Linked DNA regions of Homo sapiens. The protein of the gene in region 2 purifies or fractionates together with the protein of the main gene of each other region. This does not show direct contact. Each region holds a gene or a part of one and is shown on either strand. Other genes may lie near its edges. The genes, in order: SLC35A5 and SEZ6L2.

The links.
Region 1: the proteins of SEZ6L2 (region 2) and SLC35A5 fractionate together in Homo sapiens (co-fractionation; one large-scale study listed by BioGRID). This does not show direct contact.

The regions. Positions count from the first base shown.
Region 1 is NC_000003.12:112,578,801-112,582,619, reverse strand, and holds part of SLC35A5 (UDP-sugar transporter protein SLC35A5), read right to left. Parts: intron 2,075-3,819; coding exon 1,294-2,074; intron 1-1,293. UniProt on the Homo sapiens protein: Probable UDP-sugar:UMP transmembrane antiporter involved in UDP-alpha-D-glucuronate/UDP-GlcA, UDP-GlcNAc/UDP-N-acetyl-alpha-D-glucosamine and UDP-N-acetyl-alpha-D-galactosamine/UDP-GalNAc transport from the cytosol to the lumen of the Golgi.
Region 2 is NC_000016.10:29,882,416-29,886,234, forward strand, and holds part of SEZ6L2 (seizure 6-like protein 2 isoform 5 precursor), read right to left. Parts: intron 3,335-3,819; coding exon 3,171-3,334; intron 1-3,170. UniProt on the Homo sapiens protein: May contribute to specialized endoplasmic reticulum functions in neurons.

The DNA.
Region 1 (3,819 bases), on a different chromosome or scaffold from region 2:
TTTTAAAGGGAAAACCTTACTAACAAATCACTGGTCTTACCTCATTAAGCTATAGATATAATCTGGTCAAATTAAATAAATACTTATGTTCTTGGAAAGTTAACTATAGAAGTATGAGAGGATAAAAAAGTGAAGTGTACTCAGTACTCAAAATTTCAAAGCTAACATGAGCAAAGTGAGGAGCACCACCTGCTGGTCTTGCAGAAAAATGATTAAAGGTTACAGAAATAGGTCTTCATAGGCCTTGTTACCTATATAGATTTTCTTTTGCTTAAAAATTAGAGCAAATGGCATTATCGGCTGTTGGAAAAGAATACAAGACTTCTGGATATACACTCTGGCTAAGAGCAGGGTATCCGAAACTCAAGATCCTAATTTTTTCATCTTTAGAATCTGTTGAATCATGACAGAGGCATTACACCCAGGGAAGCTCTGCTATGAATGTTATTAAGCAATAGATTATTTTTCCCAAAGAGTGAAATGTTCACTGTATAAAATATTTCATATTTTGTGTGCTCAAGAAAATTGTAAATCTAAAGCTAGATGTCTATTTCACTTATTTAAACGTATATTTAACTCCTTAATTGAATCTTCAAAGAGATCATTAACTTGCCAATAAAATGATTGACAGAGCCTTCCAAAACAATTGCAAGCAACTGGGAGATATTCGGAATAATTGCATAAGCATTTTTCTAGAAAATATTTTCCTCCTACTCGCCTTGCAAGGATCCTCTTGAAAACTACCTTTCTAGTGAAATAAACAAACCCTGCCCTTCTGGCATACTGGCTTATGAATAACCACAGGGAGGACTGAGGAGCCAGGCTTTCTATTCAACAGGACTTACTAATACGAAAGGCCAACTTCTCTCACAAATGAGCTTATTTTCCCTAACTATGGTGGAAAAGAAAGAGAAAGGGACTTGGAGTCAGACATAGGTGTACCAGTTCTTTCATTTATTATCTGTAAACCATTTTGCCTGTTTCTTGTAAAACTATGCAGACAGGACAAGACAACCTGTGAGGTATCTTCCAGGTGTATAATTCTATAGTATTCTATGAAGTAACACATAAGGTCCTTGAGATTGACTTATACTTTTTCTCTACACCTGACAGCATTGATTATGAGCCCTTGCAAACATCAGGAGTAAAAGGAATGTTTGTTGATTCGGTTTTAAAAGTCAGAGATCCAATACATTCTTTGACAAATCAGTACTGATTTTATTTTTTTCCTTGAATTAACTATGCTTTAAATTTGGGAAGAACAAGCAAAAAGGAACACCCTCACAAACTTACCCCACTGGAACGCTCCCAAAGATTGCCACTTAGATCTCGGATCCTTTCTTGCCTAGGTGCGTATTCCGGAACTTGAGGCTTGCTGGCATTATAAATAAATATAGAGAGAAGGACTGATGGGGCTTCCAAGAAAAATTCCAGGGAGGGCCTGAAGTCAAAGACCAGGACAGACACTGTTGTGATAATGACAGTGGTAACCTGGGCCATCAAGACATGGAACATGTTATCCAGGAACTTCAGAATGAAAGCCACTGAAAGGCCCTGGAATGCAGTTACAAAAATAAGGGCTACTGAAAATGCACTGTGGCCATAAAAAAATCCACAGTTCTTAATCTGATCACGGTTACTCCTCTGAAGGCCCAGAGTCAGCCCATTAAACAGAATGCCAAAGAAATAGAGTTTGCTGTTCTGTATGAAGATGCTTTCAGTGAGCTGGTTCCCTTCCTTCAGTATCTTTTCATTATAGATATTAGCCATTGAAGAAATAAAACACTGGACTATAATAAGAACATGGCCCATGCCAAGACGGATGTGACTGAAAACTCTGGCTGTGGTGTTCCATTTAGCTTCAGGAAAAGTCCATTCCTTTGCTGTACAATTGTCTTTTCTGGGACACTCACTTCTGAAAAGAAGGCAGGAATTGGAAGGGCTGAAAAAGGCATCGTGATGAAATCCACGTCCTGCCAAGTTGTGCTGTAAAGTTTTAGTCCCGGCAGTCAAGGCCACAATAGACAAAAATAAAGTCAGGAGGGAAGCCCACTGGATCCAGTTTAGACGCCTCCTGTTCAAAGATGAAAAAAAAGATTTTACTACTGTTTTCCCCCCATATCAATAGTTTCTACTGAAAACTCAGACACTTGAGTATTTGGTTGAATAAACTGGACCCAGTTTTTGCTAGCATTTCCTACCACTCAAGTTCAGAGAAAAACTGTTGGTGCCTGTCTCTCAAATTTAATGTTTTAATTCATTTTTATAACACCTATCCCCTAAGGCTGCTCAAGTCATTTCCCTTCTGTGTAGGTTTCCTTTTAACCTACAAGTTTAACATGGCCTCCTTTCTACCTCTAGAGGTATCCTGGACCTCTGGCACAGTAACTTTTATTGTACTATAAAGTTACAGCAGAGATTCTCAACCTGGTTTCCCAGAACCAGAAAGAATGTAGATGAGCTTCAGAAATGTTGTGTACAGATGAATTTCCCCCTATGCAGGAGATCCTGCAAAGCTTTGTCAAATCTTTAAAGGTGTCCATAACCCAAAAAAGATTTAAAGGAGAAGGTTAGCTCTAGATCCATGTCCTAATCGTAGAGCATTAAACAGCAAACTGCTGGCTGACAAGCCAAAGAAAAATGTTATTTTGGGCAGTATTTCAGTTTACAAAGTCCTAACAATCCTTTGTTTATTTTCCTTAGCAACAAACTTGTGAGAAATAAAGGACATGTACTATTATTATTCCATTTTGCTGATTCATTCTATTCAACAGATGTTTAATAAGCAGCTACTACGTGCCAGGCAACCTGGGGCGATAAAGATGACTTATCTCCATGTTCAAGGAATTTATGCTTTAACAGTGAGAAAACAATGAAACTAAATGATTTCAGTATGTGTGAAAAGTGATTAATGGGACAAGTGGAGTAAACTGAGGAACACTACAATCTGTAAATAGTCAGGTATTGCTTCAAAGAGGAAATGACACTTGAGCTAGAAGATGAAAAATTAATTGAAGTTTATCATGTGAAAAAGGAGGTGGTGATATATCCAGGCAGAGGGAAGAGTCTCTATGCAAAGGCAACAAGAATGTACAATGTTGACAAAGAGGAATATCTCACTTTCATTGGCGTTGTCAGGAGGCCTCTTGGGGGAACAAAATCTTGATGTTTGAAGATCAGTTAGTTAGGCAAAGAAGGGGAACACCGAGAAAAAAAGAGGAACATAAAAAATGCAGAAGTGTAAAGCAATAGGTGGGAACCAGAAGTGAGAATTTTTATATCATTGGAGCATTTATTGAGCACCTACCATACACTTAGGCATTTCCGCTCTAAGGGAGGAAACAGTTAACCTAACAGATTTCCCTAAGGTCATGTACTTAAACACTAAAGAAGGGATCGGATCCATGGTTTTGTATGTCTTCCTTCTGCATCATCACACCTCCTAAGTATAATTCTAAGTTTCCAGGATGCACATATAGGAAGTTGTGTGCATATAAAGCTTCATGCTCTGAAACTGCTAAATGCACAGACTAGCCTAGATAGCAGCATACCTGTGCACACTATTATATGCTTTCTCATATGTATGTAATTTTCAAATAGCCTGATCTAGAACTTACTGATGGCGTTAGCGCAGCCTTATGCCATCAGGTGAGAAACTGTGAACTAACCACTTAAATTTCTGAAGGTGCAGCTGATACACATTAAGTAGCAGAAAACAAATAGAATGACCACAGAGATAAAAAATGGGTGTCCATTTTACAAAAAAAATTCCATAATTAATTATTGCAAATCGCATATAAGTGAGGCAATGATATAATC
Region 2 (3,819 bases):
AAAACACAAAAATTAGCTGGGCGTGGTGGTACATGCCTGTAATCCCAGCTACTCAGAAGGCTGAGGCAGGAGAACCACTTGAACCCGGAAGGCGGAGGTTGCAGTGAGCCGAGATTGCGCCATTGCACTCCAGCCTGGGTGACAAGAGCGAAACTCCATCTCAAAAAAAAAAAAAAAAGGAAAAAAATGAGACAGGGCCTTGCTCTGTCACCTAGGCTGGAGCGTGCAATGGTGGGATCACAACTCACAGCAGCCTTGACCTCCTGAGCTCAAGCGATCCTCCTGCCTCAGCCTCCCAAGCAGCTGGGACCACAAGTGTGCACCACCACACCTGGCTAATTTTTTGTTTTGTTTTGTTTTGTAGAGACAAAGGTCTTGCTATGTTGCCCAGGCTGGTCTCCAACTCCCAGGCTCAAGTGATCCTCCCATCTTAACCTCCCAAAGTGCTGGGATTACAGGCGTTAGCCATTGTGCCTGGCCACAGTGAAGAATCTTAAACTCATAGAATAGCAGTGGCCTACAACTCTGGAGTCAGGACTCACAACTTGCTATTTTCGGTAAAAGATCTGTGCTGTTTGCACTTTAACACTCCCAGAATCTATCCCGCAATTCATTTTTGCAGATCCACTGTTCTATTTCACTGTTACTTAACCTGCAAGGTATCATGTCCAAATCCTACCCATCCATCACAGCCGAGTGCCAATTCCATTTCTCCCATGATTCATATCAAACACTAGACCCTCCTATCTCTAAGCATTTCATCTTTTTGGTCTCTCTCTTGCTACTGTTTATACAACTCCTCTGTTTCAGCCACAATGAAATTCTGTTTCCCAGACATACCAGGCATTTCCCTACTTGCTGTTTCTCAAAGTTCCTCTCTTTCCTTTTCTTTTCTTTTCTTCTTTTTTTTTGACAGGGTCTTGCTCTGTTGCCCAGGCTGGAGCACAGTGGTGCAATCATAGCTCACTGCAACCTCTGGGGTTCAAGTGGGGTTCAAGTGATCCTCCCACCTCAACCTTCCATGTAGCTGGGACTAGAGGTGTGTGCCACCACACCTGGATAATTATTACTTTTTTTTAATTTGTAGACACAGGATCTCACTATGTTGCTCAGACTGGTTCTCAAACTCCTGGCCTCAAACAATCATCCCACCTTGGCCTCCCAAAGTACTGGGATTAGAGACACGAGTCACCACAACTGGCCTCAATCTTCCTCTTTTAAAATATCCTCTGTTGGCTGGGCAGGGTGGCTCACGCCTGTAATCCTAGCACTTTGAGAGGCCGAGGTGGGAGGATCACTTCAGCTCAGTAGTTGGAGACCAGCCTGGGCAACATAGTGAGATGCTGTCTCTACAAAAAATGTAAAAATTACCCAGGCATGGTGCCGAACGCTTGTGGTCCCAGCTACTAGGGAGGCTGAGGCAGGAGGATCACTTGAGCCCAGGAGGTTGAGGTTGCAGTGAACCATGATCGGGCCACCGCACTACGGCCTGGGCGACAAAGCAAGACCTATTTCAATAATAATAATAATAATAATAAAATACCCTCTATCCTTTAAGGCCAAGGTGAAATGCCTCTTCCTCCATGATCACTTCCTTGTTTCTACCCCTTCACATTCATTCCTCTTCTTCTGGTAACGGCATCCCAATTTTAATTTTGGGACGCAGGCCTTCCCCACTCCCAGTCCACTAGGTTAAGTTGGAGCCCACCAGGGAAGGCCACGTGAGGCAGATTAGCCAATCCCAATACTCCCTTCTCCTAGCTCAGTGATTGGCTCAGGCTAAGGCCAACCAGGATCTTAGTCAGGTCAATGAACGCCTCTCCTGGCATTTTTGCTGAGCTCTCAGGAAATATATGAGTGTTCTCTCTGATGAGGTTACTCGGTTGGTGGTATGGGCTGGAGGAGGTGGCTTACACCTGTAATCCTGGCACTTTGGGAGTCCCACATGGGCGAATCACTTGAGCCCAGGAGTTCAAGACCAGCCTGGGCAACATGGTGAAACCCCGTCTCTACTAAAAACCCAAAAATTAGCTGGGCGTGGTGATGCATGCCTGTAATCCCAGCTACTCGGGAGGCTAAGGAATGAGAATCGCTTGAACCTGGAGGAGGGGGGCTGCAGTGAGCTGAGATCGCGCCACTGCACTCCAGCCTGGGCGACAGAGAGGAACTCTGTCTCAAAATAAATAAATAAATAAAAATAAATAAAAACTAAAAACTGTCAGGCGCAGTGGCTCACGCCTGTAATCCCAACACTTTGGGAGGCGGAGGCGGGCAGATCACCTGAGTTCGGGAGTTCCAGACCAGCCTGACCAACGTGGAGAAACCCCATTTTTACTAAAAATACAAAATTAGCTGGGCATGGTGGCGCATGCCTGTAATCCCAGCTACTCGGGAGGCTGAGGCAGGAAAATCGCTTGAACCCGGGAGGCAGAGGTTGCGGTGAGCCGAGATCATGACATTGCACCCCAGCCTGGGCAACAAGAGCAAAACTCCGTCTCAAAATAAATAAAGGCCGGGCGCGGTGGCTCACTCCTGTAATCCCAGCACTTTGGGCGGCCGAGGCAGGCGGATCACAAGGTCAGGAGATCGAGTCCATCTTGGCTAACACGGTGAAACCCCGTCTCTACTAAAAATACAAAAAAATTAGTCGGGCGCGGTGGCGGGTGCCTGTAGCCCCAGCTACTCGGGAGGCTGAGGCAGGAGAATGGCGTGAACCCGGAAGGCGGAGCTTGCAGTGAGCCAAGATGGCGCCACTGCATTCCAGCCTGGGTGACAGAGCGAGACTCGTCTCAAAAAATAAATAAATAAATAAATAAAATAAAAATTAAGTTGGTGGTATGTAAGTCGGCAGCTATGTCCATCACACAGGGAAAGTGCCTAAGGATGAAGCCAGCACAGAGGAAAGAACCGAGATACTGAGATAACTGGTCTCTGGGCTATGTACCTGGATCCAGACATTCATGAAGCTTAAACAGAGAAGGCTGCCTGGGGGAAGGAGAAGGGGTCCCTAGAAGAGATCCTTGCAGTTTTGGGGCAGGGAAGCGAGTCACGTTTCAAGGAACCCAGCACGGAGATGAACAGGCATAGAGTTTGTGCTTCCGACTATGCTTGGTGTCAGGAAGAGGGGAAGGTGTGGCGGTTGGGGTCCTGTGGGGGAGTGGGTCACTTACCTTCAAATCGAAGGCTTAACAGCAGGGGATTGGCAGGTGTCTCTGACAGCAGCTCCACGTAGAGGGACTGGGCGTCACTGATGAGACCCCGCTCGGGGACATCGTCCATGTCCGAATCATAGATCACGGGGGATAGGGGGCTGCCCCCTGAGCGCACCATCAGCCTGGGATGGACAGAAACGTGACCAGGAGCTCAATCTCCCTCACAAGCTGCCTCACCCCTTGCCTGCTTTCCTAACTTATTTTTATAGCTGTTATCATCACACATAACTATATGCCACGCACTCTTCTAAGCCCTTACACATTCTATCTCATTTAATTTTCACAAGAACTCTTGAGTCAGACACTATTATTATCCTTTATTTTATAGATGAGGATATTAGGGCATAGAAAGATCAAGTAACCTGTCCAAGGTCACAGAGCAAGTAGTGGCAGGGCTGAGATACCAAGTTGCTAGGTAAAGGATGATAATGATGATGAAGATAGCAGATGCTTGACCAGGCATGGTGGCTCAGCTCACACCTGTCATCCCAGCACTTTGGGAAGCCAAGACGGGTGGATCACCTGAAGTCAAGGAGTTCAAGACCAGGCTGGCCAACATGGTAAAACCCCATGTTTACTAAAAATACAAAAATTAGCCAGGCATGGT